Homo sapiens: one gene and its partners. The protein of the gene in region 2 interacts with the protein of the main gene of each other region in a pairwise test. Each region holds a gene or a part of one and is shown on either strand. Other genes may lie near its edges.

The links.
Region 1: the proteins of POU6F2 (region 2) and MAGEA12 interact in binary tests that used the Homo sapiens proteins (3 or more experiments, as listed by UniProt).
Region 3: the proteins of POU6F2 (region 2) and THADA interact in binary tests that used the Homo sapiens proteins (3 or more experiments, as listed by UniProt).
Region 4: the proteins of POU6F2 (region 2) and MAPK9 interact in binary tests that used the Homo sapiens proteins (3 or more experiments, as listed by UniProt).
Region 5: the proteins of POU6F2 (region 2) and NUP62CL interact in binary tests that used the Homo sapiens proteins (3 or more experiments, as listed by UniProt).
Region 6: the proteins of POU6F2 (region 2) and CHAF1A interact in binary tests that used the Homo sapiens proteins (3 or more experiments, as listed by UniProt).
Region 7: the proteins of POU6F2 (region 2) and BFSP2 interact in binary tests that used the Homo sapiens proteins (3 or more experiments, as listed by UniProt).

Annotation. Positions count from the first base shown.
Region 1 is NC_000023.11:152,732,329-152,736,556, forward strand, and holds the start of MAGEA12 (melanoma-associated antigen 12), read left to right. Parts: upstream 1-1,428; 5' UTR 1,429-1,531; intron 1,532-1,533; exon of another isoform or gene 1,534-1,706; intron 1,707-2,819; 5' UTR 2,820-2,925; intron 2,926-3,758; 5' UTR 3,759-3,833; coding exon 3,834-4,228. Other genes in the region: CSAG1 (chondrosarcoma-associated gene 1 protein), read right to left, coding at 117-132. UniProt on the Homo sapiens protein: Not known, though may play a role tumor transformation or progression. In vitro promotes cell viability in melanoma cell lines.
Region 2 is NC_000007.14:38,984,409-38,987,908, forward strand, and holds part of POU6F2 (POU domain, class 6, transcription factor 2), read left to right. Parts: intron 1-468; exon of another isoform or gene 469-513; intron 514-3,500. UniProt on the Homo sapiens protein: Probable transcription factor likely to be involved in early steps in the differentiation of amacrine and ganglion cells. Recognizes and binds to the DNA sequence 5'-ATGCAAAT-3'. Isoform 1 does not bind DNA.
Region 3 is NC_000002.12:43,586,039-43,589,538, reverse strand, and holds part of THADA (tRNA (32-2'-O)-methyltransferase regulator THADA), read left to right. Parts: intron 1-2,536; coding exon 2,537-2,685; intron 2,686-2,804; coding exon 2,805-2,837; intron 2,838-3,089; coding exon 3,090-3,138; intron 3,139-3,500. UniProt on the Homo sapiens protein: Together with methyltransferase FTSJ1, methylates the 2'-O-ribose of nucleotides at position 32 of the anticodon loop of substrate tRNAs.
Region 4 is NC_000005.10:180,285,584-180,289,083, reverse strand, and holds part of MAPK9 (mitogen-activated protein kinase 9), read left to right. Parts: intron 1-2,016; exon of another isoform or gene 2,017-2,109; intron 2,110-3,500. UniProt on the Homo sapiens protein: Serine/threonine-protein kinase involved in various processes such as cell proliferation, differentiation, migration, transformation and programmed cell death.
Region 5 is NC_000023.11:107,203,634-107,207,681, reverse strand, and holds the start of NUP62CL (nucleoporin-62 C-terminal-like protein), read left to right. Parts: upstream 1-1,248; 5' UTR 1,249-1,409; intron 1,410-4,048.
Region 6 is NC_000019.10:4,409,140-4,412,639, forward strand, and holds part of CHAF1A (chromatin assembly factor 1 subunit A), read left to right. Parts: coding exon 1-620; intron 621-1,365; exon of another isoform or gene 1,366-1,384; intron 1,385-3,500. UniProt on the Homo sapiens protein: Acts as a component of the histone chaperone complex chromatin assembly factor 1 (CAF-1), which assembles histone octamers onto DNA during replication and repair.
Region 7 is NC_000003.12:133,473,056-133,475,708, reverse strand, and holds the end of BFSP2 (phakinin), read right to left. Parts: intron 741-2,653; coding exon 737-740; 3' UTR 501-736; downstream 1-500.

The DNA of each region.
Region 1 (4,228 bases), on a different chromosome or scaffold from region 2:
TATTCAGGAAAAAATAGCTTGACATACATAGAGGAGTATAACATATTCATTCATGGGGAACACAACAGTGTAAAAATGTAAACTCAGCTTAAATTATTTACAATTTAGTGCCTTACCTGTAGTCGCCGACATTACAAGCAAATTTGGGCTGCTGTGCTCTGCTTCCCAAATCAACCCTGTAAATTTATAGAATGGAAACAGAAAGTAAAAAACCAGTATTAGCAAGAAAATCTACACAACAAAACAGGGCCAGTCCAGGGTGAGACTGAAGACCTTGTTGAGCTGGTACTTGTGTGTGACACTTGCCGTGTCGGTTAGAGGGGGTTAGCGGCAGGGATGTTGGGGAGGTTTGTAGCCTGCCTAGACGGCAGATAACAGAATGGGTAGAATAAAAGTTTTAAAATTTCCACTTCACTTCATTGCACAATCTGAGGCAGCTCCTGAAAACACGATGCCAAGAGCCCTAGGTAATAGCAGGACACCAGGAAAATTGGGTTTGTTAAGGCAGCATGGCTCCAGAGTTCTGCTAATAACAACCTGAAACCAACATAGTGGGAGAGGAATTACGTTTAAAAAAAAATTCCTTCAACAGAACACAAAGACTGGAATAGAAGTAGATTAGGATAGTAAGAGTGAACGATGCATACTAAGGGTAGGTGTTAGTTCGTAGAAATAAATATATATATCGCTACCTACATATATACTTGGAAGATATGTAAACCGTATTTCTTCAATTCAGTGAATAAATCATTTAGGACCAAAGGTTTGCCAAGTGTAGCTCTGGCTGGAGAGGAGCTCCCGTGGGAAAGTGTCTGTCTTCTTCCAGAGGTCAATACGATCGTGGGAGCTCCCGCCCTGCAGGGAGCTCCTGGCCTGGGACCCGCAGCCATTCTCTACAAGGGGTGCAGCTGTGCAAATGCACAGACGTTACAGAAACAGAGTATCTCCTGCCAATCACTTCATCCAACAGCCAGGAGTGAGGAAGAGGACCCTCTTGAGTGAGGACTGAGGGTCCACCCTCCCCCACGTAGTGGGACCACAGAATCCAGCTCAGTCCCTCTTGTCAGCCCTGGTAAACTTAGGCAATAATGTCACCCCGACCACACCCCTCCCCCAGTGCCACTTCAGGGGGACTCAGAGTCAGAGACTTGGTCTGAGGGGAGCAGACACAATCGGCAGAGGATGGCGGTCCAGGCTCAGCCTGGCATCCAAGTCAGGACCTTGAGGGATGACCAAAGGCCCCTCCCACCCCCAACTCCCCCAACCCCACCAGGATCTACAGCCTCAGGATCCCCGTCCCTATCCCTACCCCTACCCCCAACACCATCTTCATGCTTACCTCCACCTCCATCTGGATCCCCATCCAGGAAGAATCCAGTTCCACCCCTGCTGTGAACCCAGGGAAGTCACGGGGCCGGATGTGACGCCACTGACTTGCGCGTTGGAGGTCAGAGAACAGCGAGATTCTCGCCCTGAGCAACGGCCTGACGTCGGTGGAGGGAAGCAGGCGCAGGCTCCGTGAGGAGGCAAGGTAAGATGCCGAGGGAGGACTGAGGCGGGCCTCACCCCAGACAGAGGGCCCCCAATAATCCAGCGCTGCCTCTGCTGCCGGGCCTGGACCACCCTGCAGGGGAAGACTTCTCAGGCTGAGTCGCCACCACCTCACCCCGCCACCCCCCGCCGCTTTAACCGCAGGGAACTCTGGTGTAAGAGCTTTGTGTGACCAGGGCAGGGCTGGTTAGAAGTGCTCAGGGCCCAGACTCAGCCAGGAATCAAGGTCAGGACCCCAAGAGGGGACTGAGGGTAACCCCCCGCACCCCCACCACCATTCCCATCCCCCAACACCAACCCCACCCCCATCCCCCAACACCAAACCCACCACCATCGCTCAAACATCAACGGGACCCCCAAACCCCGATTCCCATCCCCACCCATCCTGGCAGAATCGGAGCTTTGCCCCTGCAATCAACCCACGGAAGCTCCGGGAATGGCGGCCAAGCACGCGGATCCTGACGTTCACATCTGTGGCTCAGGGAGGGAAGGGGGTCGGTATCGTGAGTACGGCCTTTGGGAAGCAGAGGATGGGCCCAAGCCCCTCCTGGAAGATAATGGAGTCCGGAGGGCTCCCAGCATGCCAGGACAGGGGCCCAAAGTACCCCTGTCTCAAACTGAGCCACCTTTTCATTCGGCCGCGGGAATCCTAGGGATACAGACCCACTTCAGCAGGGAGTTGGAGCCCAGCCCTGCGAGGAGTCAAGGGGAGGAAGAAGAGGGAGGACTGAGGGGACCTTGGAGTCCAGATCAGTGGCAACCTTGGGCTGGGGGATCCTGGGCACAGTGGCCTAATGTGCCCCATGCTCATTGCGACTTCAGGGTGACAGATTTGCGGGCTGTGGTCTGAGGAGTGGCACTTCAGGTCAGCAGAGGGAGGAATCCCAGGATCTGCCGGACCCAAGGTGTGCCCCCTTCATGAGGACTGGGGATACCCCCGGCCCAGAAAGAAGGGATGCCACAGAGTCTGGCTGTCCCTTATTCTTAGCTCTAAGGGAACCCGATCAGAGATAGCTCCAATTGGCAATGTCATTTGTACCACAGGCAAGAGGTTGGGGAACCCTCAGGGAGATAAGGTGTTGGTGTAAAGAGGAGCTGTCTGCTCATTTCAGGGGGTTGGGGGTTGAGGAAGGGCAGTCCCTGGCAGGAGTAAAGATGAGTAACCCACAGGAGGCCATCAGAAGCCTCACCCTAGAACCAAAGGGGTCAGCCCTGGACAACCTACCTGGGAGTGACAGGATGTGGCTCCTCCTCACTTCTGTTTCCAGATCTCAGGGAGTTGAGGACCTTTTCTTCAGAGGGTGACTCAGGTCAACACAGGGGCCCCCATGTAGTCGACAGACACAGTGGTCCTAAGATCTACCAAGCATCCAGGTGAGAAGCCTGAGGTAGGATTGAGGGTACCCCTGGGCCAGAACGCTGACAGAGGGCCCCACAGAAATCTGCCCTGCCCCTGCTATTCCCTCAGAGAGCCTGGGCAAGGCTACCTGCTGAGGTCCCTCCATTATCCTGGGATCTTTGATGTCAGGGAAAGGGAGGCCTTGGTCTGAAGGGGCTGCACTCAGGTCAGTAGAGGGAGGCTCTCAGGCCCTAGCAGGAGTAGTGGTGAGGACCAAGCAGGCTCGTCACCCAGGACACCTGGACTCCAATGAATTTGGACATCTCTCATTGTCCTTTGTGGGAGGATCTGGTTATGTATGGCCAGATGTTGGTCCCCTCATGTCCTTCTGTACCGTATCAGGGATGTGAATTCTTGCCATGAGAGTTTCTTTGGCCAGCAAAAGGGCGGTATTAGGCCCTGCAAGGAGAAAGGTGAGGGCCCTGAGTGAGCACAGAAGGGACCCTCCACCCCAGTAGAGTGGGGACCTCACAGAGTCTGGCCGACCCTCCTGACAATTTTGGGAATCTGTGGCTGTACTTGCAGTCTGCACCCTGAGGCCCATGGATTCCTCTCCCAGGAATCAGGAGTTCCAAGAACAAGGCAGTGAGGCCTTGGTCTGAGGCAGTGTCCTGAGGTCACAGAGCAGAGGGGGTGCAGACAGTGCCAACACTGAAGGTTTGCCTTGAATGCACACCAAGGGCCGCACCGGCCCCAGAACACATGGGACTCCAGAGCGCCTGGCCTCACCCTCCCTACTGTCATTCCTTCAGCCTCAGCATGTGCTGGCCGGCTGTACCCTGAGGCGCCCTCTCACTTGTTCCTTCAGGTTCTGAGGAGACAGGCCCCGGAGCAGCACTAGCTCCTGCCCACACTCCTACCTGCTGCCCTGACCAGAGTCATCATGCCACTTGAGCAGAGGAGTCAGCACTGCAAGCCTGAGGAAGGCCTTGAGGCCCAAGGAGAGGCCCTGGGCTTGGTGGGTGCGCAGGCTCCTGCTACTGAGGAGCAGGAGACTGCCTCCTCCTCCTCTACTCTAGTGGAAGTCACCCTGCGGGAGGTGCCTGCTGCCGAGTCACCAAGTCCTCCCCACAGTCCTCAGGGAGCCTCCACCCTCCCCACTACCATCAACTATACTCTCTGGAGTCAATCCGATGAGGGCTCCAGCAACGAAGAACAGGAAGGGCCAAGCACCTTTCCTGACCTGGAGACGAGCTTCCAAGTAGCACTCAGTAGGAAGATGGCTGAGTTGGTTCATTTTCTGCTCCTCAAGTATCGAGCCAGGGAGCCATTCACAAA
Region 2 (3,500 bases):
GAAAGAGAGACAAGACCTCGAGCAAAACAAAGCAAAAAGGCAGCAGAAAACTCACCAATATACTTGCTTCTTTAGTTTATATTTCTAAGTTATTTTGTAAGCTTACCTCATCTCACCTAGCAATTCAAATCACACACAAAAAATACAGTGAAATAATACGTTAGCACAGGAAAACTAGAATTAAAAAACAAAGTCTAAGAAAAGGCCTCACAGTGCTTGTGCTGTACACAAATTTCAATATTAAGGAAAACTTTTCTTTAAATCTTTAGAGTTTTTACAAGAGGTTAGCCAGTGCTCCGATGCTGTGAAATAGTACTTATTATTTCTGGAGTTTAATATGATGTTGACCCTGCATATTTTATGACTTTGATTTTTGATGAATAATTTAAAACTATTTTTAGAAGAAAATATTTATCTCTAACATCTAAAAACTTAGAGAAACAGGTATATTTTTAAAAGAATACATACCTGTTAAATGGTGTTTTTAGCATTGATCAGAACTCAGGCAAATTCCTGTTCAAAAGAACAAAGCACAACATTTATAGGGAGCTTAGTTTTCAGTGCAGAATTCATATACAGATTTTTTTAAAGGAAGTAGGTTTTTGTTGAGAGTAAAAGGTAAATATTGTACCAAGACAGAAGCAAGGATACCAGAAGCCGTAATTGATACTGAGGAAATATGAGAAAAGTAGATATTTCTTAATTCTTCAGTTCTTTTCCTCCAAATTGGAAGGGCAGAATGGGCAAGAATGGAGCTGGACACACAATAGTAGGGACTATGGCACGCCAAACTTGCTTCAGACACAGCTAGTTAATTTTGTAAGTCTTAAATAATACTAGAAAACAAGCCTCTTTCAACCTTTTCTCCAAAAGGTTGAGAGTTAGGACAAATGTAAAATGCTGCTTAATGGGCACAAATAAAACAAGAACATCAAACTCATTTCACTTAGTGTCAGTCCTGATGATTCATCATTATGGTCAGGGCGAACTCTGGTCTTTGGGCCGAAACAATTTTATCCATTAAAAAAAAATCCAGAATGTTCCAGCTTGAATCTTATATCCTTAGGGTTACAATATTGAATTCCGAATCGGGAAACTTAATCTTGCAGCCAGATTTGACAAGATGCTGGTTGAATGGTGGGCAGAAGTGATGATTGTGGGATGAAATGCCCTAGGTCAGAATTTGAGAAAAATAAGAGATTTTGTGAAAGTTTGGCTGTGATATAAGAATGCCAAGTTTGAAAATTTCTCTCTGTTCATATCAGCAGATGGTGTTCCAGGGTCTTAAAAGTAAATCTCTGCTGTATTCATTTTCTCTGTTTCAATATTTCTTGAACAAAGTGAGTCTTTACACATTCTTAGGTGCATTTCTTGGTGTATTTCTAGAACTGCTAATACAAGAGGTGTTTGTAGTAATATTCAGAAGGTTTCTGGGAACGAAGGCTAATATGGCTCAAATCCCAAACAGTCCTACATTGTTCCTAGGTAATATATTAATCCTCAATTCAAGAACTAAAGTTGTGATTTCTTTTCTGAAAACTTTTTTCATTTGTAAACAAACCTATATCTAGATTCCTAGTGACGAAAGAATTTAGAGTAAAAATGAAAATGAGGCAGTCTAGCAATCTAATTCATTAACACACACGCACACTCACAGACATACTTTAAACATTTTGGGAATACTTGACTATTTAACCTCTAATAATCTAAAAATATTTTGTCTCTGTTTTCAATCTTAGTACCTGAAAAAATTATGACAGATGTTTACTTAAAATACTCCTCTCAACTTGGTTGAGAATGGAAAAATACTTTGCAACTTTTTTGTTTTTGTTTTGAGATGAGGTCTTGCCATGTTGCTGAGGCTGGCTGTGAACTCCTGGGCTCAAGAGACGCTCCCACCTCAGCCTCCTGAGTAGTACTTTGCAGCTGTTAAACATCAAGTTTGTGGTAAGAATTCGAGTACATAGTCGATTGGAAAACTGCAAACGTATGAATATTGTGGTTATTTCCTTCCAAAAACAGGGGGGCTCTTTGGTTTGCAATGTACTGCCATTTGTACTAGTGCTGAAACCTATCAACTGCAATTGCTTTCTCCCTTTCTACCTTTATTTATCAAATAGAATTTAAACAGCTAGTTCAGGCAGAGAGTGGAACATCTGAGTAAAAGTGACAGTACATGAACGCAATTCTTATATGCACGTGATTGAAGTGAGTTAATTACATGGTAGACTCCTATGAGTATTTTTGAATTTTTTACTAAAAAATTATAACAGTAATTTCTGCATATGGCAAACCATTGCAATAGCACAGAATAATATAAAGTGGAAAGTAAAGTATCCTGATTCCACTCGCCACAAATAACCACTGTTAACTATTTCTTATATATCCTTCCAGAGATTTTCTGTGCATGTATATGCAATCCTTACACAACCCAAGTAGAACTATACTATACATAGAGTTCTGCAACTTACTTTTACATATAAAAAATATTTTGAACCTCTTCTCATGTGACTATGAATAGATCTGCATCCTTCTCTGTAGTACTCCCTTTTATGGATATACAGTGATTTATTTAACCAGTTCTCTCTTGATCTAGCTTTTAAAAATAAGTTAGTCTCTGCAATCAGTCTAACAAGTAGAGAAGTTTCATTTCTCTTAACATAAAAGATTTCAGAATTTTCCAAATAGGATTTGTTTGAGCAGAAGAACTCATAAATAGTGTCTCCTGAGAGAAGGTTAAGTGTAATGTTAAAAGTGAAGAGTAGCTTTATGCCACAAGAAAAGATACTTATCATCTATATATTGAATACTCAAACCAATTAAAATAGCAATAAAGATCACAATATTTTATTTAGTAACAAAGAGGTAAGAATGACAGAGAATGGCGTAAAGAGCTGGTTCTCAGTCAGACACACTGTGACTTGAAAACCTTTATGTTTGCTCCAAGCCACCAAACTCAACTGAACAAAATGCTTGTTATTTTCTTTCATGAGCCTCAATGCTGTTTATTAAGATAATTGACATAGATGTATGTTTCCAATGCATGATTCAGTTAGTGTATCTAGATTAGTGAAAAAGAGACCAGAAGAAATTCATGGTAATTAATGTCAGTTAAATTTCTGTTTTCTGTATTTCATATTGTCAGACCAATCCTTCAACCCTGATTCATAAGTTAAATAATGCAGTCACAAGCAGGGCTAAATAAAAACATGTAATGAGACTTAGCTCTTGAATTCTACTAATTTAGGGTTCTGAGAAGGTAGACAAAGTGTACATTATTGAAATATTCCAGAGAATGTAAAAAGTTATGTTTTACGTTTCTTTTAGGATATGTCTCTGCTCGTTCTCTTTAATTACGTCACCTCACATATACTAAGAAGACAGTAACGTAGGTGGTAATGAAATCTTATATTTGAATAAAAGATGGGAGTGTGAGCTGACCATGCCATCTTTCCCTACACAGACTTCCAGAATTGAGCCTATGGAACTGTCCATTGGGT
Region 3 (3,500 bases), on a different chromosome or scaffold from region 2:
ATTGCAGTGCAATGATCTCTAGAACCTTGTCATCTGCTAAGCTCTGAAACTGTATACATTAAGTAACAACTCTCCATTTCCTGCTCAGCCCTTGGCAGCCACTTTCCGTTCATAAATTTGATTACTTTAGATACCTCATATTAGTGTAATATTTGTATTTATATTTTTGTGACTGACTTATTTCACTTAACATAATGTCCTTAAGGTTCATCCCTGTTATAGCATATGACAGGATTTTCTTCTCTTATAAGGCTTAATATTCTGTTGTATGCATATACTGCATTTTTTTCATCCATGCATCTTTCAATGGACATTTGGGTTGCTTCCACTGCTTGCCTGTTGTGAATAATGCTGCTATGAACATGGGTGTGCAAATATCTATTTGAGATCCTGCTTTCAGTTCTTTGGATATATACCCAGAAGTGGGATTGCTGGACCATATGGTAATACTATTTGTAATTTTTTGAGCAACTGTCATACTGTTTTCCATATGCAACATTTTACATTCCCACCAGCAGTCCTTACTTTTTCAGCTATAAATATTCTGTAATATGAATATACCAAAATTTAAATGTACCATATATATGACATGTATGTATCTATATATGGTACATATTACATGATTTATATTACATGGTATAAAGTAATTTAATCACTTCCCCATTGCAGTGATATTCTTATGTATATAATTATATATGTGTATTTCTCTGAGATAAATTCCAAGAAGTGGAATTTCTGGACCAAAAATTAGGCCTATTGAAATTCTTGGTAGATATTGTTAAATTGTACTCCCCCAGACTACCCATTGAATTAGAATGCTTGTTTCTTCTTCATATATTTCCAACATTGGATACTATCAATCTTTAAATCTTTTAAAATCTAATGAAGGAAAATGCTATCATTATAATTTGTGTATCCCAGATTACTAGTGTAATTGAACATTTTTTAATGTGTGGAATTTGACTTTTTTTATTACATATTCTTTGTACATTTTCTTGTTAGAATGTTTTCTTGATTTATAAGACTTCTCTATAGATCATATGCCAAATACATTCCTTTGTTACTTGTCTTTAACTTTCTCATGGTGTCTTGTCTTTACAAAAATTAAAATATTATTTTGGTTATCAATTCAGCTAATTTTTGTGTATGTAGATTTCTGAGTTTTATACCTTGCTATATGTGCTTTCTGTAATACAAGATTATTTAAAACATTATTTGCAGGCCTTATACTATTTTTTTTTTTTTTGCTCAACTTTTATGTCCATCTGGAATTAAGCTTTGAATGTAGTGTGAGGTAGGGATTCAATTTAGTTTTCTTTTTTATATGGGGAACCACTTACCCAAACTGTTGAATCGTCCATCTTTGCCCACATATTTGGAATGCCACCTTATTGTGTTATATGTTCACATATATACATGGGTTTGATTTCTGAGTTAGGTCCAATTATTCATACACCAACACCACACTTTTATTTACTATAGTTTGATAAAGTGTTTTAATTATATGTCAGTGTTAAGTCATCCCTCTAGTGACTCTTCTTATTCTGAATATTCCCATTTTTGAATTATTTTCTTCCAGAAAAACTTTGAACTGTCCAGTTATATTTAAAACAAAGCCAATCAGTTTTGATGTATATAAATTGAGGCAAAATTGATATGTTTAATTTACTCATTTGATAAATTTTTATTGACTGCCTACTGTGTTTCAGCACTCTTCTAGGAACTGGGGGTAGAATGAATGAAACAGTCCAGAATGGAGGTTACATTCTAAGGGGAAGATAGAAAATAGACAAAATAAATAAGTAACATTTATAGGATATTAGATGGCATGAGTGCTATCTAAAAGCGGGAAGGAAGGAAAGGGGACATAAAGGATGGGGTGAGGGTTACAATTTAAAATATTATGGTCACTTCATATAGCTTTGCTCAGACATGATAAGGTAATTGAGATTGACCTGAAAGGGATGAGGCAGTGATTGCTGGGTATATTTGAAGGAAGAGTATTTTGGATGGAGGAAACAGCAGAAGCAAAGACTGGTATGTCAGAACAGAGCAAGGCCATGTAGCTAGAGCTAAGTGAACAAAGATCAAGATGAGGTCAGGATTGTGATAGATGCCATTTTAAAAATCAAGAAAAGAAAAAAAATAAATAAAGATGAGGTCAGGAGCTAATGGTAGTGCCAGATTGTATCGGGAGGACCTTGTAGGTCACTGTAAACACTTCAACTAGTACTTTAACCGAGAAGGATATTGTTGGAGGTTTTAGTAAGAGAAGTGACATGGTGTTTTAACGGTGTCACTCTGCCTGTTCTGTTGAGAATAATCTGGGAGATGGGAGAGAAGCAAGGTGGAAGCAGGGAGACCAGATGTGCTGACAAGCCAGGAAATTCGAGTGATGGTAGTGTGTAGTTGTAGTTTTCTGGCTGTATTTTGAAGATTTAGTTCAGTATTCCCACATTTGTATGATTCTCTTCCCTCTCCACATATTCTGGGGCTATTAGATTGTCAGATTTTTAATATTTGTTTCTTTTTCTAGCTCACTAAATAGCCTGCCTGATTTTTTTCTACCTGAGGCTATGCACCGTTTTACTTCTCGTCTTCAGGAAGAATTGAATACTACTGACTTATACTCTTACAGGAAAGTTACTGACAATATTTCTTCCTGTATGGAGAACTTTAACTTGGGTAAGGCTGCACTTTTCTAGTCCTTTTTCTGGCTAACCCCTCTCATCACATCATAGTTTTTAAATGACATTGATTTTGGTCGTGAAACTCCTTACCAGTGTTCATTTTTTCCTCTACAGGTAGAGCAAGTGTTAATAATCTGCTTAAAAATGGTAAGTCCTATTATTTTATTTTGTTCCATGAGTTGATGGCTTGTATGAGTCATTTTGGAACTGGCTCTTTTAAGTTTCTTGGTAATAGGTAGAGCATTGTAGATAACTTAGGTACATCATGACCCTTCCTTTTAAATTTTTGTTTCCATATCATGATATCATTTTGGATAACAGTGATATAAAATATTTTATTTTATTGAAATTGAGCTTCACAGTTTTAAATTCTTATTTGTCATATTCTTTTTGTTTCAGTGCTTCATTTTCTGCAGAAGAGTTTAATTGAAATCCTGGAAGAAAATAGGCAAGTGCTATATGTTGGCATTTGTGTGTGCACACTTGCAGTTGTACATTATCTTTGTACAAAGAAAAATTTAAAAGTCTCAGAATGTGATCTTTTCATCCCTTTTCATTAATATTATCACTTTTATATTTTTTTTGAGATGGGGTCTTGCTGTGTCACCCAGGCTGTAGTGCAGTGGTGTGATCATAGCTCGCTGCAGCCTCAACCTCCTGGGCTCAAGTGTTTGTATCACCTCAGCTTCCCACGTAGCTGGGACTACAGGCATGCACCACCACACCCAGATAGTTTTTTTTATTTTTTTGGAGACAGAGTCTCACTATGTTGCCCAGGCTGGTCTTAAACTACTGGACTGAAGTAATGTG
Region 4 (3,500 bases), on a different chromosome or scaffold from region 2:
ATTTTTGGTCTACATACATACAGTAGTTACACCTCACACTTGGTTAGGAAGGTGCCATTTTTACATAATTTTCCTTCAGAATAATTAATTCCTGATACTTTGTACTTGATTGTATGAACCAGTTTCAACATCATTCTTTTTATTTTAACTTTTATTATGGGAACTTTCAAACATATACAAAATAAACAGAATAGTGTCCTGCTTTAACAGTTATTAACTCCTGACCAATCTTGTTTCATCTCTAATGGTATCCACTTGCACCCTTACCACCCATAATTATTTTCAAGCAAATCCTAAATATCATGTCATTTCATTCATTATTTTTTGGGATACTAATTACACAGTGGGTGCCCAGTAAATGTTTGGTAAAGACAAAGCTAAATGGGAGAATAAATGTGGTAGGGTAGCTCGGAGCAGTGGGTAAGATCAGGACTTTGAGTCAGACTCCCAGTGGGTCTGCTGCTTATCTGGGTGATGTGCAGAAGCGATTGCACTCATCTGTAAAACATACGGGCACAACCTCAGGGTGCTCAGGAGGTGTACAGTAGTTATACTTCACACTTCGGTAGGTCTCTAAAGGTACTGACTCTTTTAAAGTTGAAAAAGTAATAATTGCTTAATATCATCAAATAACTAGTCAATATTCAAATTTCCAGCTGCCCCATGAATTTTAGGTTTCCTTAATAGTTTGAAAGTAGAGCAAGAGAAGGCCATACGTTGTTGATTGGATGATACGTCTTTTAAGTTTCTCTTAATCCATAGATCCCCCTCCTATTTCTTTGTTTTCTTGGTAGTTTATTTGTTGAAGCAATCGAGTTGTTCCTTAGCATTTCCATAGTTGGTATTTGATTGATTGCATCTCTGCAGTGTAATTGAATGTGTTTCTCTGTAATCTCTGTAAGTTAGTAATTGGATCTAGACGAGGCTTCGTCAGATTTAGGGTGCATTCCTGCATCAAGATGCCTTCCTAAGTGGGCTGTGCACTTCTTATCTAGAGGTACCCTGAGGCTCTCTGCTCGTCCGTGTTGCAGATGAGTGCAATCGCTTGCTGCACATCACCCAGATAAATAGCAGACCCACTGGGAGTCTGAAGTCAAAGTCCCGATCTTAACCACTGCTCCCAGCTGCCCTACCGCATTTTTTCTCCCATTTAGCTTTGTCTTTAACAAACATTTTTTGGGCACCCACTGTGTAATCAGTAGAGGATTGAGAAATAAATCAGACACATTTTCTGCCCTTACAGAGTAGAAGTGTAAGTAGACTCGGAATGCAATCTAAAGCGAATACTGGGAGGGTGGCAAAAATGGGGGCATGCCCAGCATGGTTTGAAGGGAAAGGCTGGAGGAGGAAACATGTAAGAGAAGCAAGTGCTTGAACTAGATTTTTGAAGGAGGGTGAATGTTGACCAGCAGGTCAAAAAGGGGAGGGAAGTCATTTCAAGCAGATGGAACAGCTTAGGCAGAGGCCTGAAGGTGTGCAGTAGCTGGGTGTGTCCGCTGATCCCAGGTGGTTTGATGTTGCCTAAGATTGGGCCAGAGGACTGCCATCTCCTGTGCTGTGCTAGGGAACTGAATCTTATTCTCCAGGCAGTCAGTCACTGTTGAAGGAGTTCAAATGGGAGAATGGTGTGATCACTGCACACTTTCAACAAATCTCTCTTTTTTCTTTCCATATTTTGAAATAATTATAGATTCACAGGAAGTTGCACAAATGGCACAGAGAGGTCCCAGTACCCTTCCCCCAGCTTTCTCCCACGGTTACATATTTACACAACTGTAGTAAAATGTCTAAACCAGGACATTGGGCATCGGAGCAAGGTGTATAGAGTTCATTGTCATTTTTTATCGTGTGAAAATTCCTATAACCACTACCACAATCAAGATTCAAAACTATGTCATCATCCCAGATATCTCCTTGTCCCACCCCCTTACAGCCACAGCAGCCCCTTTTCCCCACCATTCATAACTGCTGGCAAGTACTAATCTAGTCTGCATCTCTATACTTTTGTCTTTTCAGGAATGTTATATGCATGGAGTTATACAGGATGTGACTTTTTGAGATTGGCTTTTTTCGTTGACTATCCTGCCCCTGAGATCCACCCAAGTTGTGGTATGTTTCAGCAGTTGCTGAGTGGTATTCCATGGTATGGGTATACAGCAGTTAGTTTAACCATTTACCCATTGAAGGACAGGTTTGGGTTGTTTCTAGTTTGGCACTATTAAAAATAAAGCTGCTGTGAACATTTGTGTACATATTCTCACGTGGAGTGATTTCTCTTTCTAAAGTGGCATGTGTGCAGTGGTTCGGAAGTCACAGAAATGGTGGCTGGGAGAATGCTTCTGCTGTCGCTGGTCCAAGGAGCCACGAGAAGCCCTTACCCAGGGCCCTGGGAGTGGGGGATTGAGAGGGAAATAGGCAGGCCTGGGTGCCTGGAAGTGGGGCTGGTGACGGAGATCCTTGCAGGGTCCTATGGATCCAACAGTGGGTGAAGTGATAACCAAATGCTAGTTGTTCTGTATTGTGGTATATACTGTGGCTTAAGAACTACAGAGGATGGCCCTGAGAGCTGCAAGGTTCTTGATTATCAAAGAAAGATTACGTTGTTATACCAAGCTATTCTTCATAAGAATTACAGTAGGAGGCCAGGCGCGGTGGCTCACGCCTGTAATCCCAGCACTTTGGGAGGCTGAGGCGGGCGGATCATAAGGTCAGGAGATCGAGACCATCCTGGCTAACACAGTGAAACCCCATCTCTACTAAAAATACAAAAATTAGCTGGGTGTGCTGGCGGGCGCCTGTAGTCCCAGCTACTTGGGAGGCTGAGGCAGGAGAATGGCGTGAACCTGGGAGGCGGAGCTTGCAGTGAGCCGAGATCATGCCACTGCACTCCAGCCTGGGCGACAGAGCGAGACTCCGTCTCAAAAAAAAAAAAAAAGAAAAGAAAGAATAAAGAATTACAGTAGGAAAATAGAACTTTTTAAATTTTTACTATTTTTTTTTTTTTGAGACGGAGTCTCGCTCTGTCGCCCAGGCTGGAGTGCAATGGTGTGATCTTGGCTCACTGCAAGCTCCGCCTCCCAGGTTCACGCCATTCTCCTGCCTCAGCCTCCCTAGTAGCTGGGACTACAGGCGCCCGCCACCACACCCGGCTAATTTTTTGTATTTTTTTAGTAGAGACGGAGTTTCACCATGTTAGCCAGGATGGTCTCCGTCTCCTGACCTCGTGATCCACACGCCACAGCCTCCCAAAGTGCTGGGATTACAGGTGTGAGCCACCGCACCCGGCCAGATTTTTACTATTATTATTATTATTATTGTTTAATATAGAGTTGAAGCCTCACCATGTTGCCCAGGCTGGTCTGGAACTCTTGGGCTTAAGTGATCCTCCCACCTTCGGCCTCCCACAGTGCTGGGATTACAAGTGTGAGCCATCTTGCCCAGCTGGAAAACAGAACAATTTAATGAAAAAAATGTCGGCAGCAAGCATTGAGACAGAGGGT
Region 5 (4,048 bases), on a different chromosome or scaffold from region 2:
GGGATTACAGGCGGGAGCCACCGCGCTCGGCCTGGCAAATTTTCTTGCTGTGCTTTAAATTTTCTCCCTAGTCCTATTTTTTTCCTTTCTTCAGGAAATATGGTCTCTGTTCTGAATCCTTATCACAAGAAGCTCTTAAGGAGTAATGACTCCTCCCTCTTTGGTCAAACTAGGTTCTCTCCCTTCACTCAGATTTAATTTTTTTGGTCACACTTCCCCACCTTTTGATAGTTACAGTCAAACGACATGTAATACTTACTCTCCCAATCAGCCCTTGGCGAGTAGCAGGTCTTGTAGGTACAAGTAGTCTCTGCACAGTACACTCGGGCCCACCAAGTGAAGGTCTGATTACTTCTCACTCCTCAGCTTATCTAACCAAGCAACACTGGAACCCTCAGACCACAGCGTTCAAGTTGTCGCACAAAGGACATTATTCACGTAGTAAGTACTGGGGCCATTTTTTTTTCAGTCTGAAGTGTGATATCCCCCAAAACATTTCCTAACCAAGGCATGCTAGGCCAGGATAAATCGTGCCTGCACATATAAAACAGAAGGGTACAGTGGCTGCTCCAGTTTGGAGCACCCAGGTCCTCCTATAAGAAAATATGGTTTACATTCCCAAATTAGTCATTATTAATGGGAAGGGAGAACCAATAAGTGCATGTGAGAGTTGAGAGAAGACCAGTTGGGAAACTTTCAGATGTTTACTTTTGCCTTCTGACAGTCGATCAGCATCCATCTTTCACTCACATCCTGTAAAACCGAGTTTTGTTAAAGCAGCGTCCTGTTTCTAGAGTCTAGGATAGCGGGATTTAGTGAAGAGTCTAGGATAGCGGGATTTAGGGAACGGGTCTTCTCCACCTTGCCCAACTTGTGGCTTTTTGGGGTATCTCGCAGAGTTATAAATATCTAGAGTTCTCCCTAGTTTTTCTGATAGCCACAGCATCTGAGGACCCTGTCTTTCCCCGTCTTGAGGTTCGAGTTTCCTCACCTTGGTCAGTTTTCCCGTCTCTGGCTAGGCTCCGAAAATAGACTGTGCAGAGCGTGGCGTCTCTCCGTTGCTAGGGTAACAACTTTGTTTTGTTCCCGCCCCCCACCTGCCAACCTCCGGGTTCCCGCTTGACTTTTCTGGCCAATCATAGAAGAGTCTCATCTGAGACTGCACTGGAATCGACCAATCCGAGCGCGTCCAGGTCAGGGTCACTGGTCGCCCTTTCTAGTTAACCAGGTCGACCCCTTTTAAGCCTCAGTCTCGGTTAGCTTCACTTCAGCGGGAACCTGCCCACTAAGGAGGCCGATTCTTTCCGGCTCGAGCAGGTCCGGACCCGCCCCTCTGGCGTCTAGCAGTCTCGGAGGCCTGCCCGTATAGTTCAGGGCCGGACAGCGAGCGGCGGCGACTTGCCAGTAAGGTAAGTTTGTGGGGTTTTCGTTTGTCCCGTTCGTCAGCAGGCTTCGCTCTCTTTTGCGCTTTTCCCGCGCGTGAATTCCCGATCTGAGGACTCGAACTCCAGCCGATCTGGAGAGACGGGGGCAGAAGGGTAGGGTCAGTGGGCCGGGGGTAGAGAAGGTTTTGCTACAGTCCTCCACGCCCCCAGCCTTTCACGTCTCCCCCACGCGACAGAAACACGTGTTGTGCTTCTGTCTTGGCTTGTCGCGGGCGATAGTGTGTTTGTATGTGTGCAGGTGGGATCGCGCTTTTTATTCTCCTCTGTAGGCAAGGCTTCCGGGCCCCAAGTCCCCGGGGGAGCACCTGGTCAACTGCCACCCGGTTCCTGTGGGGCACTGGCTTGAGCTACGTGTCGTTCCCACTCTAAGGAACATCGCGACTCCGGGAGCTCTGCTTTTCCCGCCTCGGAGTGGAGAAAAGCAGGCGCGCCGCTCGCTTGCCACTGCTAGGGAATCTGGTTGTCTTAAGTTCACTTAGAGATAGAGTTGTTACCCTAGTTTCCCATAAATTCCGTGGCTTGGTTTTAAACAAAGGGGCGGCGGGGGGATGGCGTAATAAATATTTGGAGTATTCAGGACTGATTAGCCATGATCAATAGTAGGACCCCACAGAAGGTTTTAATGAATGGTTACTTTTGGTTATTCAGGTATTGGAATTTGATTATGAATGAACTAAACTGCTTCCCTTCTTTCTATATACCATGCATTTCTTAACGACCATCCCATCTGGCATAAGAGATAGTGAAGTTTGATTAATTTGTCCCTTCTACTTGTTCTTATCTACAGTAAACAAAAAATGGGGGTAGAATAAGGTTATTGGCTAAAGTAACGTTATTGGCCTTTTGGCCAAATTACCAATACCTTAATTCCGCTTATTACTGTGAATGATCAGAGTTTAGCTGTCTTGCATTTTGCTAATTCACTAGATACTTGTGGAGCTTAAATTATAGATATTATGCCATCTCCTTCTTCTTGCTTTTTTGTTTTTATTCTGCCTCACTGTGCATTATTCTAAGTCTGTAATGCTCAGCCGGTGTTTTTCAGACCTTTTGACTGTGACCGACAGTAAGAAATAAATTTTATATTGTGACCTAGTACACATGTAGACAATATATAACCGACAACTGTTTTTACAGAAACAACACTTAACACTTACTACTTGCAATATACTCTGATAATTTCCATTACATTTTAAAAAATGTACACCACAACACCCTAATGATTTGTCCCTAGACCTTTAGTTTTCAAACTTGTGTGTGCACTTTATTTAAAATTTATTTAAATAAATAATTTATTTAAAATTTATTTAAATAAATAATTTATTTAAAATTTATTTAAATAATTTATTTAAAATTTATTTAAATAATTTATTTAAAATTTATTTAAATAAATAATTTATTTAAAATTTATTTAAATAATTTATTTAAAATTTATTTAAATAATTTATTTAAAATTTATTTAAATAATTTATTTAAAATTTATTTAAATAATTTATTTAAAATTTATTTAAATAAATAATTTATTTAAAATTTATTTAAATAAATAATTTATTTAAAATGCAGATTGCCCTGGCTCCCTCCAGAAATTGGTTCTGTGGTCTAGTGGGACCCAGGAAGATATACAATATAGCATATATGAAATACTTGGTACAGTGTCAAGTGCACAGGTGTTCAGTGAATATTAGTTTTCTTCTTGGGGAACAAATGTTATTTATCTTTAGGGATATAATCAACTCTTCAAGGTTTCATCTGTCCCTGGCAAGGTGGCGTCCAATACTAAGAACTGTTTTCCCCAGGTAGAGGAAGTAGCGGGGTGGGGGATGGGTCCAGGATCTGAGATTAATCTTTAAGCAGTTGGCTTCCCTGAACAATGTCGGAAATACAGAAGCTTAGAGGTTGAGGAACATAAGGATTAGAGAGGTTCTGTGACTTTCCCAGGATTGTGCTGTCAGTAAGTGGATCTCCGAGACTAGAAGTCACTTCCTTATTCTAATATTCTTGTCCATTCTGCCTTGATAGCAGCCGCAATCTGGAGGCAGTGGTTGAAGCAGAAAGAGAGCTTCCCTAACTTGCCTATCCCAAAGGAGAGACAACTGAATTTGACTCCTAGTTCGGTTTTAAAGTAATGAAACTTCTAACCTGCACATTGTGCACATGTACCCTAAAACTTAAAGTATAATAATAAAAAAAAAGAATAATGGTGAAATAAAGGTTTTTTTAAAGGGAAAAAAAATAATGAAACCTGAGAGATCTAAAATATTTTTTAAAATACACCCAAAGGTTTCTGTGGATTTATAGCTATGAAAAATGGATATAGTTTAGCTAATTCTTTTATATAGAGTATTTTAAAACACTGGTTAAATAATTTATTAATGCAACATTGAAAGAAATTAAAGATGAAAAATCTCACTCAATTCTGCTACCATAATATAACTGATAATTCTGTTCCCCTCCTATCTTTATCCACATGTACCCATGTTTTTACATGATTGTGATCCTTTTTCATATACTTTTTTGTTATTTTTATTTAATACTGTTTTGGAAATTTTTTTCTGTGTTGTGATGATCTTTATATTTTGCATTATTAACAGCAACCTAATATT
Region 6 (3,500 bases), on a different chromosome or scaffold from region 2:
CAGTCATCATTGATTTGACAGAGGACTCGAATGAGCAGCCAGACAGTCTTGTGGACCACAATAAACTAAATTCTGAAGCCTCTCCCTCCAGGGAGGCAATAAATGGCCAGCGAGAAGACACTGGGGATCAGCAGGGGTTGTTGAAGGCCATTCAGAACGACAAGTTGGCATTTCCTGGAGAGACCCTTTCAGACATTCCTTGCAAAACAGAGGAGGAGGGTGTTGGCTGTGGAGGTGCAGGGAGGAGAGGCGACTCCCAGGAATGTTCGCCACGGAGCTGCCCGGAGCTGACGAGTGGCCCGAGAATGTGCCCCAGAAAGGAGCAGGACAGTTGGAGTGAAGCTGGGGGCATCCTGTTCAAAGGGAAGGTGCCTATGGTGGTCTTGCAGGACATCTTGGCTGTGAGACCACCGCAAATCAAGTCCCTTCCAGCCACACCCCAAGGCAAGAACATGACCCCTGAGAGTGAGGTGCTGGAATCTTTCCCCGAAGAAGACTCTGTACTCAGCCATTCGTCCCTGAGCTCTCCCTCTTCCACCAGCTCGCCCGAGGGGCCGCCTGCTCCCCCAAAGCAGCACAGCAGTACCAGTCCCTTCCCCACCTCCACGCCCCTCCGCAGAGTGAGTATCTCCCATGGAGTCCCTGCACATCAGTGCTCACGGATCTCAGAGCGCTGTCAGTCTCCACTGGGTCACCCAGGTGTTTTGTGGCAGAGTGAGCGGGGCCACGGGCTGGGTCCTGGGACTCGACGTGGAGTTCTTCCTGGTATCAAAACTCACAGTGTTCAGTTCTGCATTCGTTGTGATGCCCCTGGGACTTAATTCATCAACAGTGTACCTGGTGTACTGTGTGAATAACACCCTGCTGTTTTGCCTTCGTTGTTCACATCTAATCAGTGATAGCTTAGCCGTTTTAGGGAATTAGGATCTGAGCTGGTGCTGTAACCCCTCACTTCAGATTCGAGGTCCAGCTTTCTCTGTGCCCTTCCTGTCTAAGCATAGAAATGTAGGGACGGGGCTGCAAAGACACTGAGCACTGAAGTGGCAGTGAGACGGCAGGAAGCATGACTTGGGGAATTCTGTAGGGTCAGCACAGCCAGCCATCTTAAAAACCTTACCTGGGGCCAGGCACAGTGGCTCATGCCTGTCATCCCAGCACTTTGAGAGGCCGAGGTGGGAGGATCGCTTGAAGATCACTTCAAAACCAACCTGGGCAACATAGACACCATCTCTATGAAAAAAAATTACTTTTTTTTTTTTTTTTGACAGAGTCACTCTATCACCCAGGCTGGAGTTCAGTGGCGTGATCTCGGCTCACTGCAACCTCCACCTCCCAGGTTCAAGCGATTCTCCTGCCTCAGCATCCCTGATAGCTGGGATTACAGGTGCGCACCACCACACTTGGCTAATTTTTATATTTTTAGTAGAGACAGGGTTTCACTATCTTGGCCAGGCTGGTCTTGAATTTCTGACCTCAAGTAATCTGCCCGTCTTGGCCTCCCAAAGTGCTGGAATTATAGGCATGAGCCACTGCACCCAGCCCTGCAAAAAAATTTTTAAAAGTTATCCAGGCATGGTGGCACATGCCTGTAGTCCCAGCCACCTGGGAAACTGAGGCAGGAGGATCACTTGAGCTGAGGAGTTGGAGGCCGCAGCGAGCTATGATCACACTGCCGCGCTCCAGCCTGGGTGACAGAGCGAGACCCCATCTGGAACCATTTTTAAGGACCCCATAAGGGGGACTTTTGCATGGTCTGTCTCTGTTATTGATTTTTTATTAGCACAATGGTGTCCTTAAGGTCTTAGGGACCAAACTGATAAAATCAGTCACGAGTCCCACGGTGTTTAGTGGTGTCTTTTGATTTTATAATTTTTTACTTTTTATCTTAAGTATGTAGAACCAGAAGAGACAGTGCCTTTTTATGTTTTTGGTTTTGTAGCACTTTTGTTTGTTCATGTTGGGTCTTTATATGAGAGTAGTAGATCCTGAGATGGGTCATTTAATCTGTACCTGTAAGCAGGTACAGTAGACCACCTGGACCATAAACCACCAACCTTGTTCGCTTTCGGGATTTTGAGCTCTAAGGAACCATTTATTTATTTATTTTTGAGACAGAGTCTTGCTCTGTCACCCAGGCTGGAGTACAATGGCGCCATCTCAGCTCACTGCAACCTCCGCCTCTTGGGTTCAAGCAATTCTCCTGCCTCACCCTCTCAAGTAGCTGGGATTAGAGGCACCCGCCACCATGCCCAGCTAATTTTTGTATTTTTAGTAGAGACGGGGTTTTGCCATGATGGCCAGACTGATTTCAAACTCCTGACCTCAGGTAATCCACCCGCCTTGGCCTCCCAAGTTTCTGGGATTATAGGCGTGAGCCACTGTGCTTGGCCAAGAGCATTTATTTTTCTGAATGACTTCATTTCTTGTCTTTCACCTGAGAAGATGAAAAAGGAAAAAATGGCTTCCTCTTTAGGTTTATGAAATGTTGTAAAAATGGTGCAAATCTTTTTTTTTTTTTTTTTTTTTGAGACATGGTCTCACCCTGTCGCCCAGGCTGGAGGGCAATGGCATGGTCTCAGCCTACTGCAGCCTCCACCTTCTAGGTTCAAGCGATTTTCCTGCGTCAGCCTCTTGAGTAGCTGGGATTACAGGTGCCCACCACCACGCCTGGCTAATTTTTGTATCTTTTCAGTAGAGACGGGTTTCACCATGTTGGCCAGGCTGGCCTCAAACTTCTGACCTCAGGTGATCCGCTTGCCTCGGCCTCCCAAAGTGCTGGGATTACAGGCATGAGCCACCGCCCCAGTCTTCTACTTTGTTTTATATGTGCTGGTTTGTTATATAGGTAAACTCTTGTCGTGGGGGTTTGTTGTACAGATTATTTTATCACTCAGGTACTAAGCCTAGTACCCTCTTCTAAGTTACTAAATGTGCCAGACTGGCATGTACACATTTCAGCTTCTACCTAATCCACCACTCAATCTCCCAAAATCAGAGTTGAAGTCTCTCCCCATTGGGCATCCTGTAGTGTACATTCGATCACTTGAATTTCTTCCAGGCTGCTGCCGCTTTGCAAAATTTCGTCCTGTGATGTGAGCCATTTAGCAAGAACGGGACACATGGCTGGGCGCGGTGGCTCACACCTGCAATCCCAGCACTTTGGGACGCCGAGGCGGGTGGATCACCTAAGGTCGAGAGTTCAAGACCAGGCTGACCATTATGGAGAAACCCCGTCTCTACTAAAAATACAGAAAATTAGCTGGGTATGGTGACGCTTGCCTGTAATCCCAGCTACGCCGGAGGCTGAGGCGGGAGAACCGCTTGAACCCAGGAGGCAGAGGTTGCGGTGGCCTGAGATCGTGCCATTGCACTCCAGCCTGGGTAACAAGAACAAAACTCCGTCTCAAGAAAAAAAAAAAGGACAGGACACAAGCACATGTTTCCATTAAGTTTGTTTCCATGTCCACAGCTTAGTCTGCAAACTGGGAAGTCCCCTCGTT
Region 7 (2,653 bases), on a different chromosome or scaffold from region 2:
GACCCTGGAAGAAAATTCTGAGGCTGTAAGTGGGGTGAGCAACCACAGTGTAATTAATCCCCCACTTAGATTGAATGGGTTTAGATTGGGCTTAGATTGAAGTTCCCTTTTAACTGATTGAGAGATGCTCTGCCAATAGCAAGTGAAATGTGTGTGTCTGCACATGAATATGCATGCAGAGTATATTAAAGAGGTCTGAATACTCCACGATGCCTGTAATTATGAAACATGTGATAAAGCACCACACTAATCCCCTCTCGAGCAAGAGTGTTGTTTTTTGTCCCAGACTGCGTCAATCCTGCATGCCATGAGCACTGCTTTTGCCTCCGCAGCACTTTTATGTTGACAAACCCAAGAGCAGGTGACCCTAGGGAGGCAGATGGCGTCACACTCAAGGGAATCCTTCCAGAAGCCTTCAAGCATAGCTCTGTGAGCAAAGGCCAGACAGACAAAGTGATATCCATCTCGACCCTATAGTGAGTTGAACAAGGTGGGCAAACTGGACGCTGCGCACAAAGCATTTATTTGAAGGAGGACAAGGGAGATTGCTCAAGCTACAGACTACTCAGATTAAAGCAGAAGGATCCTCTCCACTTCCAGGAAGCTTTTCAGCTCAAGCTGAATTAACCAGGGAATCCAGCAGGGACTGGAGCTCAGGAGAAAGCTCCTCAAGCAACTTCTTGGGTCAGCTGTTGAGGAAGGGTGTTTTCTTCATGAAAAAGAGGAAGTTTCTCCATCAGCTGAAAGGAAACACATAGGAGTCAGAAGCAATGGGTGAGGAAAATCGGTCATTCTATCACAATAGGATTACGAGAAAGGGGGCCATCTCATGAAAGAATCTGGCCTTTGGAACAAGATAGTTTTGGGTTTTAAATAATTACTCCATGGTTATTTGCTGTGAGACCTTGGGCCATGACTTAAGCTCTCTGAGGCTTTGTTTCCTGTCTCTAAAACACGGATCATGAGGTTGTCTTGGCAGGGTTTGGAGGATAAACAAAAATAATCAAGAGTCAGGTCTGCCTTGGCACTCACTAAATGAACGTAGCACATAGATTCTTAAGAAGTAACTCGGCCTAACTCACTGCTCTTGCTGTTTGTTTAAATTGACTTTGTGTGTTTATACAGATGCTCATAGGCATCTGAAAAAAAAATACTTTGTTAGGAACATCTGGCTTTTATAATCAACAAAAATCAATTCAATAAAAGACAGTTGGAGAGGAGCTGGATGACATATTTTCCATTTGAAAGCAGGGCGTGGTTAGGTCGCTTCCTTGAGGCTCTCCCGCCTTCTGAATAAAGAGAGGTTACACAGTTGGAGAGAGCAGGAGACCTGGGCTCCCATCCCAGTGCTGTCTCCGCCTCCTGTGTGATCATGCGCAAATCTTTTTCCATTCTGGGTCTTTGTGTTCTCTCTTGAATCAGGAGGGGTTGGATGATACAATCACTAAGCTGTCTCTATTCCTTATTCAACATATGTCAGACAAGGAGTCTTGGAGGGAAATAAGAAGGCATAGAACTATGATACAAAATAAGGGCCTGGGTTTCTGGAAAGAGTTGGCAAGGAAGCTAAGGCCCAAGGCTGATGTATATGCCTCTGGAATCCTTATCTATTAAAAAAAGAGTGAGTGCAAGTGTGTGTGTGTAATTATGGCAGACTAACTCAACTCCTAGTCCCAACCCCTTGCCTGCCTCCACTATGGAGTCTGGAAAAGCTAAAGAGTTGCTTTCTTAGCCTCCCTTGCAGATGGGTATGGCCAGTATAAGCAGGTTCTGGCCAATGAGATATAAGGGACAGTCCACTGCAAGCCTCAAAATGTCTTTCCTTCACTGATTAAAGGAGAGGATCATTCAAGAAAAAGCCTTTTGACTTTTCATTTTGTTCTGTACTAAGAAAAATTCTTCTGCCTTGGGATCCTGTTGACCTGTGACCTTACCCCCAACCCTGTGCTCTCTGAAACATGTGCTGTGTCCACTCAGGGTTAAATGGATTAAGGGCGGTGCAAGATGTGCTTTGTTAAACAGATGCTTGAAGGCAGCATGCTCGTTAAGAGTCATCACCACTCCCTAATCTCAAGTACCCAGGGACACAAACACTGCGGAAGGCCGCAGGGTCCTCTGCCTAGGAAAACCAGAGACCTTTGTTCACTTGTTTATCTGCTGACCTTCCCTCCACTATTGTCCTATGACCCTGCCAAATCCCCCTCTGCGAGAAACACCCAAGAATGATCAATAAAAAAAAAGAAAAAGCCTTTTTTTTTTTTTTTTTTTTTGCTGCTGCCTCTTCTCTCCCACTTCCGGCCAGGAATGAGGATGTGATGTTTGGATCTGTGGCTGGCATATGGTAACCATGGGGTGACAAAGATAAAGACAAAAAGCCAATGTTGTCATGGTATGTTAGAAAGATGAAAAGAGCTTGAGTCCTTAATGAAATCTTTGAGCAGCCTAGATCACCTGTTTCTGGGACTCTTAAATAAATGATTTACACATCTTTGCTACTCAGAGTGTAGTCTGTGGAGCAGCAGTATAGTCATCACTTGGGAGCTTGTTAGAAAGGAAGACTCTCAGACCCCACCCCAGACGTACTGAAGCAGAATCTGCATTTAAAAAAGATGCCCAGCTGGGGTGTCACGGCTCACACCTGTAACCCCAGCTA